Linked DNA regions of Homo sapiens. The protein of the gene in region 1 purifies or fractionates together with the protein of each later gene. This does not show direct contact. Each region holds a gene or a part of one and is shown in the gene's direction. Other genes may lie near its edges. The genes, in order: CCDC50, NLRP3 and MAP2K4.

The links.
Region 2: the proteins of CCDC50 (region 1) and NLRP3 purify together in Homo sapiens (affinity purification with western blotting; one study listed by BioGRID). This does not show direct contact.
Region 3: the proteins of CCDC50 (region 1) and MAP2K4 purify together in Homo sapiens (affinity purification with western blotting; one study listed by BioGRID). This does not show direct contact.

The regions. Positions count from the first base shown.
Region 1 is NC_000003.12:191,356,762-191,360,416, forward strand, and holds part of CCDC50 (coiled-coil domain-containing protein 50 long isoform), read left to right. Parts: intron 1-326; coding exon 327-389; intron 390-1,236; coding exon 1,237-1,363; intron 1,364-3,655.
Region 2 is NC_000001.11:247,436,615-247,440,269, forward strand, and holds part of NLRP3 (NACHT, LRR and PYD domains-containing protein 3), read left to right. Parts: intron 1-2,666; exon of another isoform or gene 2,667-2,919; intron 2,920-3,655. UniProt on the Homo sapiens protein: Sensor component of the NLRP3 inflammasome, which mediates inflammasome activation in response to defects in membrane integrity, leading to secretion of inflammatory cytokines IL1B and IL18 and pyroptosis.
Region 3 is NC_000017.11:12,111,358-12,115,012, forward strand, and holds part of MAP2K4 (dual specificity mitogen-activated protein kinase kinase 4), read left to right. Parts: intron 1-1,875; coding exon 1,876-2,003; intron 2,004-3,655. UniProt on the Homo sapiens protein: Dual specificity protein kinase which acts as an essential component of the MAP kinase signal transduction pathway. Essential component of the stress-activated protein kinase/c-Jun N-terminal kinase (SAP/JNK) signaling pathway.

The DNA.
Region 1 (3,655 bases):
ACTTAACCCTCCATTTATAGAAGTGGATTGGAATTTCTAGACCTCTGGAATCTGATTCTGTAAATGTTCTCACCTCAGGCCAGGGGCCAAGGCTAACCAGTATTTTGTGACACCCTGTGCTTGGCACTAAGCAGGCACTATAGATTTTTGTGACTAAAGACTGCATACTTAACTAGTCACTATTTTATGCATTGAGAATTATAAAGTGTGTCATTCTGAAATATTAGAATTGATTTTTTTTAAAGTAAAAAAAAAAAATCCTTTCCTTTGTATGTTAAAGTATTACTAATGAGCCTTCCTGTCTGTTTTTCCTCCATCTACTCTAGTATGCCGAGATTTTGCTGTCCTGGAGGACCACACCCTGGCTCACAGCCTGCAGGAACAAGAGAGTGAGTAATACCTCTCATTTATGCTCCTTCAGTTTTCTTTTTTTAGTGGTAGCTTGAGGCTGGTTTCTTAGGGCTTAGGTGGGGAGAGAGCACAGTCACTTGGCTTCACCATCCATACATCCTGAAGGATTTCTTTAGGCAAATGATGCCTGGGTGATCAGTGAAGTTTCGGGCATGTTAAGTAAGATAGGCTGCCAGGAATTAGTAGACTGCTGCGTCTGTAGGAGGAAAAAGAGAGGTTTGAACCTTTTTCCTAGCCTCTTGTTGTAGGAGGGACACAATGGTTGTAGATTTATCTGGGGTGCGTAGAAGGAATCTATTCTTGCTCCTAGGATAGGGACTTGAACAGTTTTCCCAGGCAACTGTGGTATAAATGAGATCACATTGTGAATTTTTCTGAATCTTTTTTTCCATGTGGTGATGAAAAGTAAATCTAAGCTATGCATGTTATATTAAAGTACATACTTGTGAATATATGATTTGTGAATTCACATATCAATATAAAATTGACATTTTGAAAAATGCGGTTAATAAATAGAGTGACAACATGTAGTAGTAGAAAGAGCATTGGCCCTGGCTTTAGAATATTTGTGTAGATGTCCTGGCACTGCCACTTTGTTGCCGTGTGACCAAAGGCAAATTATTTAATCTTTTTGATCCTCTTTTTACTTAATGGAAAAGTGGGGATAATAATTCCTTGCTCTTTATTATATATTGTTGTTGAGACAATAAAATGAAGTGATGGATGCAAAGCTGTTGTTATGGTAAAGCTCTTAAGATTATTATGGCATTTATTACTAACAAACCAAGACATTATTCATTCCTGTCCTCAATCTTTTTGTTCCAGTTGAGCATCATTTGGCATCGAACGTTCAGCGGAACCGTTTGGTCCAGCATGATCTCCAGGTGGCTAAGCAGCTCCAAGAGGAAGATCTGAAAGCGCAGGCCCAGCTCCAGAAGCGCTACAAAGACCTGTGAGGATTTGGGAGGTGGGAGGGGTGATGCAAGACTGGTTTTCTCTGTGGAGCTAGCAACCAGGGCAGGGGAGAAGGAGACTACTTCTGTTCCTCTGATTCCTTCTACTGTTAGATTACAAATCTTACCCTGGATGTCTAACAGTTTTTTTGATTTGAAAATGTTTTGTTTTTGTTGGAGCACTTGACCAGGTTTAAGGACATGTTGATGATGGTGTGAATTTTAACATTTTTTAGCTGTTATGACCTTGGGCCAGTTAGTCAACTTCTCTGAATTTATTTTCCTTACCCATAACATGCGGATAATAATCTCTGTCCCCTCTGCCTCATAGTTTCTTTGGGGGATCCAGTGAAATAGTGGACATCAAATAACTTTATGGGTTGTATTGGTTCCTTTACTATGTTCTAGCTGTGTTTGCCGCTCTTACTTTCCTTGCTTTTCAGTACATAGCAGAATGTTCTGAAAAGCTCTGAAGTGTAGACTCAGTTTTTTTCATAACTTCAGTGTCTGACAAAAGTTCTCTCTAGTAGCCTCCTTTAACACACAGATAAACGGAAATGATTATTTCTCAGGTTTCTTTTGGCACAGTGACTTTTATTCTGTTTCAGTGTTATAAAGCTCCCAGGATACATTTCTTCTTTGAGAGTGGCTCTTACATCCTAAATCTTTAATGTGGGTAGATTTAACCACAGATACTGTGTTGAGGAGGAAGGGGTAAAGGAAAAATGGAAGGAACCCCTTAATTTACTTCAGTGTCATATTCAGGTAAAAAGGAAAGCCAGTCATTTTTGCTAACTTATAGGAAGGGTTTGTCTTTCTGTTTATTATTTGTAGAGAGGACTTTATTAATCATTTTGTTAAGCTTCCCTTATTTTGTAAATAAACACTTTTATTGATTCATGCTAAATCTGGCACCATGAAAGGAGACCAGAGATATGAATAAGACAGCTGTTGCCTTTAAGGGCCTCAGGAAAACACCTTGAGCATTGTGTATCTAGAGATACGTGCATGAGTCACAGAGAATTGAAATGTAAATTTCAGGCCTATTTAGAGAGAAGAGACTGGGAAAAGCTTCACAAGACGATGTGTTTAATCTGAAACTTGAAGGTTAATTAGAAGTTTATAGTGATGGGGAAAACCATTCTAGCCAGAAGGAGCAGCATGCATAAGGGCAGGAGGTAAGAGGACTTGGAATCAATCTCACGTTAGCTGCAAGAAGTTCAGTGTTGCTGGAGTGGAGAGTGTATTTACAGGCAGAAGTAGGAAGTGAGGCCAGGAAAGTAGTCAAAAGCTGGATCAAAAGGGTCACGATAAGTTATGTTAAAGATTTCAGGTTTTGTAGATTTTAAATTATAAGGAATGGAGAACCTTTGAAGTAGTTTCAGATTTTCATTTTGGGATCTATTCTGTAGACTAGGTGGGTAAAGGCTTGGAGTGGGCAAGATTTGAAGGCAGCTGTTGAGCAATGGTCAAATTAAGAGATGGTGAGGCTTGAATGAGGACAGTGGTGACAGAGAGGAAGGAGATGATGAGGCCTAAATTGAAGGTCATGGTAATGGAGATGTAAAGAGGAGGAGAGATATTTGAGATGTTATGAGGCTCAGTGTCACAGGTTAAGGTGAGAACCAAAGCTAGAATGTTCTAGAGTTCTAAATTCATTGCCCTTTACATTATTCACAATTCTCTGTTAGAAAGGCCAGTTCTGAGGTTGATGCAGATGTTTAAAATCCTGAATTAGGTTAATAACAGTATAATGAGCTTTTTCAGAAATTATCAAGACAAACCACTCAAATATAAATCAGGAGTAGAGAGTGATATTTTATAGGTCCTAAAGGAGAGAAGAACCGGGTATTATATTTCTGCCTGAGACTTCAAGGTTTTGAAATTGTTCCTGGATGAAATAAGTAAGCTAGAAGGGAAGTCTTTCAGTTCACTCCCTGGCAATTTTAATAGCTGTACATCTTGGGAAGGATGAAATGCTGCAGTTTTCATTGAACTGGAACCTTTTATTCAGTCTGGATACCCGGGCTGCCGTAAGTCAGGATTACCGCTTGTTTACTACTGCTTTCTCAGTTTCGCTTTCCCAGGAGTCTGTATAATTAGCTGACTGAACCAGAGATGGTACTTCTTGGAAATATGGTTTGAAATCATTAAACTCAGATGAAGCTTCACTTATTTATTTTCTGTACCAGGAGATACATCTTCTGTGTCACTTGTGACCTTTAACACTTCATTTGGGTTTGCCTTCTCTACGGTGCTTCTACTTTCTTCCCACTTATTATCACATCCAA
Region 2 (3,655 bases), on another chromosome or scaffold:
ATGCTCTCCCAGGTACACAGGCTGGTTTGTTAGTGTCTGTCTTTGAAATGTGGTGCCCAGACCTGATGATGCATGGTGGATGTTTTACCTCCTGTTGCAGAGAACTATGGTTTCACTGGTGGAATCTCTGATTTCCTTGTTTTTTTTGGCAGTTACATAAGCCTTTTGATTCATGTTGGAATTCTGCAGTAAACAGTAGTAGGGAATACCCACTAATAATCATGCACTTTCCCTGTACCACTTTCCTGTATCACTTTCCCTGTATCACCTGCTCTTTCATGTTCTTACATGGATTTTCTCAGTTGGCTTCAGAAAGATGCTATAGGGTAGGGTATCTGTGTCTCCAATTTAAAGAGGAGAAAATAAAATTCAGGGAGCCTCATAACTTTGTCCAAGGACACTCAGAGAGAAGGTAGTGGAACTCAGTGTAGACAAACGTCTGTGACCTCCCAAGCCACTGCCTTAATTCCCAGTGCATTGCCTTAGGAGATGTTGCTAATGGGCTCTCTACAGGGCTTCTTCATCTGGCTCTCAGCTTAAGGGTGGGACCTCCAATTTAGCTTTGCTAAACCTCATCTTACCTGTCTTTTGACCCATTGACTAGGCAGTTTTGAATCTTCATTCTGACAATAATATCTACAAATACAATAAGCAAATTGGATAGGTCTTCATTCATTCACATTATTAATATATATACCAGCCAGATCAGCATTCAAGACAAAATTTGGCAGGAAAGGTCTTCCCAGAGGAGTAATCCACTAATCCATAATTAACAACCAACCTCTGTTCACAAAGCTCTGATACTTCCTTGGACCTCTCCCATCAGCCAATCCTCAGATGTGACCATATCTCTTTCTATGAAGTCTTCCTGCAGTGCCTTCATTTCCTCGCCTTAGGGTATTACCCTTCCTTAGCAAATCGCCTTAGAATATTACTCTTCCTTGGCAATTTGACTTCTGCTTCTCTAAGTTTGTTCAACAGACATGATTTTGTCCCTTCATTTTGCAGGCCCTCTGGGGGCTCTGTGGTGGGCACTGACAGCAGCAGTGAGTAAAACAGACCAAAATCCTGTTTTCACAACCGTTCTTTTAGGGAAGTGATAACAGATAATAGACATGCTAAACAATATACCCTGTGTATAAGAGCTATAAGAAAAACTGGAGTGACGGCGAGGGGTGCTTCTCTGCTCACGTTTGGCGAGTGCCTCTCCGAGCGGGTGACATTGGAGCAGGTGCTCAGTGAAGCGTGGGATGGGCTGTGAAGGAGCCGGAAGAGCCCTCCAGGCAAAGCAGATGGAACCGAAGAGGCCCAGGCGTAGGCACTCAGGTGACTCTCAGTGATCCTGGTTCCAAATTCCACATGACAAACAAGCCAATTACAAATGTGCCTGATGCATCTGTAATATGCTCTATGTAGTTACTATTGTCAATACCTAACCTGGTAGAGCTGCTGTAATAAAGTATCACAAACAGAGCGGCCTAAACAACAAGAGTTTATTGCCTCTCAGTTCAGGAGGCCAAAGTCTGAGACTGAGGCATCAGCAGGCTGGGTCCTTATAGGTCGTACAGGTCCTTCCCAGTCCTTACTTTAGTTGACATCTGCTGCCTTTAATTCATTTCACTCTTCCTCTTTGGAAGCCTTCTTCGCTCTTATTTTTAGGTCACTACTTAGTCTTTCCTGCTAATGTTATAGCTTCCCCCTCCCTGGATCCTGCATTGGCTTCTCTTCCTGTGGTCTGGGGATTTCACGACTGGTTTAGTTGTGTTTTTTTTTTTTTTTTTTTTTTTGAGTTGGAGTCTTACTCTGTCACCCAGGCTAAAATGCAGTGGCGCAATCTTGGCTCACTGCAACCTCTGCCTCCCGGGTTCCAACAATTCTTCTGCCTCAGCCTTCTGAGTAGCAGGGACTACAGGTGTGCACTGCCATGCCTGGCTAATTTTTGTATTTTTAGTAGATACGGGGTTTCACCATGTTTGCCAGGCTGGTCTCGAATTTCTGACCTCAGGTGATCTGCCTGCCTTGGCCTCCCAAAGTGTTGGGATTACAGGCGTGAGCCACACACCCGCCTGGTTTACCTTTTTTGTTGTTGTTGTTACTAAATATTTCTAAACTCCCTGAGAATTCTCATATACCTCTCAATTTCAACAACAGTAGGTCTCAAACCCAGATATCATTCACAAACTTTTTATTAGAAAAGTAACACATGCTTGGTGTAAACATATCATAGTACAGACAAAGTGGAAAGTGAAAGCTCCTTCTCAGCCCTCTTCTGAGAGAGCCATTTACAATAGTCTGATGAACAACCATCCAGACTTTTTTTAATACAATAGATTGTTATATAATCCATTCATCTGTCCATCCATCCATCCATCCATCATCCATCCCTCTATTTTCCATCCGTCAATCCATCCATCCATCCATCCATCCATCCATCCATCCATCCATCAATCCATCCAAGGGAGTATCAGAGCTTTGTGAACATATATTGGTTGCTAATTATGGACAAATGGATTTCCTGTATATGCTGATCTGGGTGGTATTTATATCAGTAATGTGAATGAAGACCTATGTGATTTTCATGTTGCATTTGTAATACATTGTTATGTAGTATTTTAAATGCCTAGTCTGTTAGAGCTACTGTAATAAAGTATCACAAACAGAGCAGCTTAAACAACAGAAATTTATTGTCCCTCAGTTCTGGAGGCCAGAAGTGTGAGATTAAGATGCTAGCAGGCTGGGTCCTTCTGAGGGCTGTGGGGAATCTGTTCATGCTTCTCTTTGGCTTCTGGTGGAATGTCATCTTGCTGACACATTTTGCCATTCCTTGACCTGTAGATGCCTCTGCCACACCATTGCCTTTATCTCTACGTGGTGTCTTCCCTGTGTCTGTGTGTGTCTTTCTCCATGTCCCAAGTTTCCCTGTGAAAGAACACAAGTCATGTTAGATTTGTAACGACCTGATCTTAACTAATTACATTTTCAGTAACCGTATCACCAAATAAGGTCACAATCTGAAGTACTGGGGCCTAGGACTTCCACATATAAAGTCTTAGAGGAAACAATTCAATCCATAACACCCTATCTATTGAAACTAGAACCATAATATAAATATTTTTCTGTGATATCCTTTTTTCATTTATCATGGATAAATTTCCATGCTGATTTGTGTAGATCTATCGATTGGGGCATAATATCCCATAGTGTGCTTTACCATAATTTATTTAATCAAATCATGCATTTTGGGATAACTGTTCTTTTCCACTATTACAAACAACTCTGCAAAAAGCACATTTGTATATATAGTTTTATGCATGTGTATTTGCTTTGAGATAGGTATCTATAAGTGGCATTAATCAGTCGAGACTTTTATGCATTTTATGTGTTAGGTACAGCCATACATGTGGCTGTGTGTTAGGTATAGCCTATGGGTTAGGCATAGCCTGTGTGTTAGGTATAGCCTATGGGTTAGGTATAGCCTACGTGTTAGGTATAGCCTATGTGTTAGGTATAGCCTATGTGTTAGGTATAGCTACATTTTTTTCTCTCGAACTTTGGGTCCTCATCTCTGGCTGCATATTGTGTACTGCCTGTCTCAATACTGCTCAAGGGTCACACATGCTGAGCATTTGCAACATTGGTTTAATTATCATACCCC
Region 3 (3,655 bases), on another chromosome or scaffold:
TTTGTTTGGCTTAATGCTTGTTAGAAATAATATCTTTTTTTCTTTTGGCCTAAAATTATGTAGAGTTAGGTCCCTAAACAAAATTCTTTGTTTCTCTTGTATTTCTTCTTGTTCTTGTCTTGATTTTTTTTTTTTTCCCTTCTTTGTTAGCTGTGTTCTATAATTATGAGAGTAGCACCTTTGAGGCATTTGATAGTTACCTTAGGGATATTTACTGATCACAGTAAAGCACCAAGGTACTGCCTGGGGAGTAGTTGAATAAAATAAAAAAACTTCAGAAGTAACTTTTATTGTTCTCTTACTAAATGAAGTGATGAGTTTATAGCCATCTTTTATCAGTTAGGATCAGTTAGCTTTTTTGTTGGAGTCAGTGCTTTTGATTACAAGTAATAGAAAATCCTGATAACTCTCTTTAAACTTCAGGGAAATTCATTATCTGTCATAATTAGTCCAAAGATGGGGTGGCTCAAAGCACAATATGCTCCTCTTCCTTCTGTCCTCCTTCATGTGTTAACTCTGTCCTCAGGGTAGTAACAACTAGAGCAGTTCCCACTATCATGTCTATATGTGGCTGCCTCGTGAAGAAGAGGTGCTCTCGTGCTGTGCAGCTCTGTAGGGAGTATGGAAACTTTTCCCACGTCTCTAATACCTTTTCTTGGCTCATTCACCAGAAGTGCCTCATGCCCTTAAACCAGCTACTATCAAGAAGCATGAGACTACCCTTATAAAACTTATACCAGCCAACAGCCAGGTTTTCGAGGTGTGGATGTTGATGAGAAGAGATACTTCAATAAAACACAGGTTCTGTTAGAAAGTATGGATGGGGCTGGGTGTGGTGGCTGACACCTGTAATCCCAGCACTTTGGAGACCAAGGCAGCTGGATCACTTGAGGTCAGAAGTTCGAGACCAGCCTAGCCAACATGGTGAAACCCCATCTCTACTAAAAATACAAAAATTAGCCAGGTGTGGTGGCGCATGCCTGTAATCCCAGCTACTTGGGAGGCTGAAGCAGAAGAATCGATTGAACTTGGGAGGCGGAGGTTGCAGTGAGTGGGGATTGCACCACTGCATTCCAGCCTGGGTAAAAAAGAGCGAGACTCTTGTCTCAAAAAAAAAAAAAAAAAAAAGCATGGATGGTTAGGAATGGATGTTTGATAGGCCCACAGCTGTTTCGGTCATGGTAAGAGATCTTTACTGAATTTTTTTGTGGATCACCTTCTGAGTTACATTTAGATGTTTTCTGCATCCTATATTTTAAAACCTTATTTTTTATTCATTGAGCCAGGATAGTGACAAGGACATGGATAAAAGGACTGAGCTATGGATAGAGAATTAGTTGGCACATACTGGTAGTGACTTGATTGTCAATGAGAAAGGGATTTGACATTCCTTATATTTTGACTGTTATGTAATGAATCTGGACTAAGTAAATGAATTTGTAAGCCTCTTGAAAACAATTTAATGCCTAAATTTCTTGTGAAAATTTTTTTTGATATTCAGTTTTTAAGCACTGGCATTCAGAAAATTGTTTTCCTTTCTCATTTTCAATAGAAGAAAACCATTGTTTTTTCTGTGTTTTATAAATATGAAGATGTTAAGAGAAAAATCAATCCCCATCTATATCTTACAGATTAATGTTTGTGAAATGACTTTTGCTGTTACATTTACACAATTATAGTTATTAAAGCTACATGTTTAAAACATGAATAATTATTGTATGTGATAAATGAAGATGTTTTACTTCTTATATATCTGAATTTAAGGACTTGACCACTTATGTTGTCTAAGGTTTTTCAATATTTTTGCTTAAAGTGAAGCCTTATGTAACTTAGGAAGAAGCTAATTGTATACTGAATGATATCTATGTCTTGCAGATATCAAACCTTCCAATATTCTTCTGGACAGAAGTGGAAATATTAAGCTCTGTGACTTCGGCATCAGTGGACAGCTTGTGGACTCTATTGCCAAGACAAGAGATGCTGGCTGTAGGCCATACATGGCAGTAAGTGTTAAGTCCAGGCCTTCTTGCTTGATAGTCATTGCACAGAGAGCCTGTGCTCTTTTGTGCTGGCCATTAGTCATACGGTTTTACCATGAAACTGCTAGAATATTTCCCTTACCCTAAGGCCCAAGCTCAGGTCCTAGCCTCTCCATGAAACTTTGCTAAATTATCCCAGTCAGCTCCTGTTTTCATTGTCTTGCTTTATTTCTCTTACTTGGTATTTAGCAGTTGTGGTCTTCTCTGATTATTGTTTTTTCATTATATTGAACTCAACTCATTAAACAGATGGTAACTTCTCAGAAAGTTCCCACCGTCCCTTAGTGAGACAAATGGGAAGCCTTGAGTTCATTAGCAGAATTCACTATGTATTACAGAGTCTGAAGCTGCATATTTTGAATATTGTTAGTCCTTTTTTTTAGGGGTAGATGAAGCACACCAACAAATGCAAAGGTAGAGGCCTTCAGTATTTTGCAACCTGGAGCCTCTTTTCCTGCAAAGAGACAGATGTACACTATCCATCCATAGATATCAAACTCATCTTACCCCAGTATATTTGCATACAGTGTTCCTACAGCCTGGATTTTGATCTGTATTTGAATGAAAATGTAGTGTCTGTATTTCAGACATTTCCCTAGGTGTTAATGTCTTTCTTCAATGTTGCCATGGTTCTTTGGGGACCAGCACACTACTAAATGTGACACATAAGGTTTTGTGGTTGTTTCTTGAGGCCTCCCTGCCAGCAGCATTTCTTTCCATCTTTGTAGACTGTTTTAAACTAAAGATAAGCTTAGAATTGAATAAAATTGTTCTTTCTTGGTTTCCTCCTTGATATATATGTTTTCAAACCTAGTGCTATAAATAATAAAAAAGTAAGAGTCACAGGCTAGATATTATAGGTGTTCTAGATTATTTATGAATGGATAGGCTTAGTGCTACTACAAATTCAACTTACTGCATTTTTCAATCCTCTTTTGGTTTTGTTATATCTTCCCATATCACTTTTTCTTCAGATGAACATGTAAAAGCGGTGTGTGTGTGTGTGTGTGTGTGTGTGTGTAGACACCTAACCTGTGTGGTAAGACCTTTTAAACTTTTGGTTTTGTGGATGTTGACTGGCTGGGCAGATTTCTTGACTCAGTTTGGAAGATCATTTGTTTATCGTGATAACTAGGGATAAATGGCACAATAGTTTCAAAGGCAAGAAATAAAAAAAATTAGACATGGAGTATTTGGGAAATGTGATTTACATATTTATTAAGGATACCCCGAGAATGAACTGAAATTGTTATTTACAGTTTTAGGGCTTGTCTCGATACTAACAGTGACTAAATGTTTTTGTTGTGTGACACTGACTAAGAATTATATTTGATTGAAGCAGGCTTTGAAAATGCAATTGCAGCCCAGATAAAGTAGAATATTTTGAATTCAGCTTTCTAAGAAAGACTCAGACTTTCTTTAAAACAGACTTTCGTCATTCTTGTGCAGAGATATGCTTTGCAGGCCCAGGAGATGTAAGACTTCTGTTTTCTTGCTGACCTTCATCTGTGGAACACAAAGGCTGATAAACTCTTGGCCTCTAATCTTTACTGGACCAGATGAAATTCTTCTGTCCATTCTCATCTTTCAAAGCCTGTTATAGATAGACAAGAACT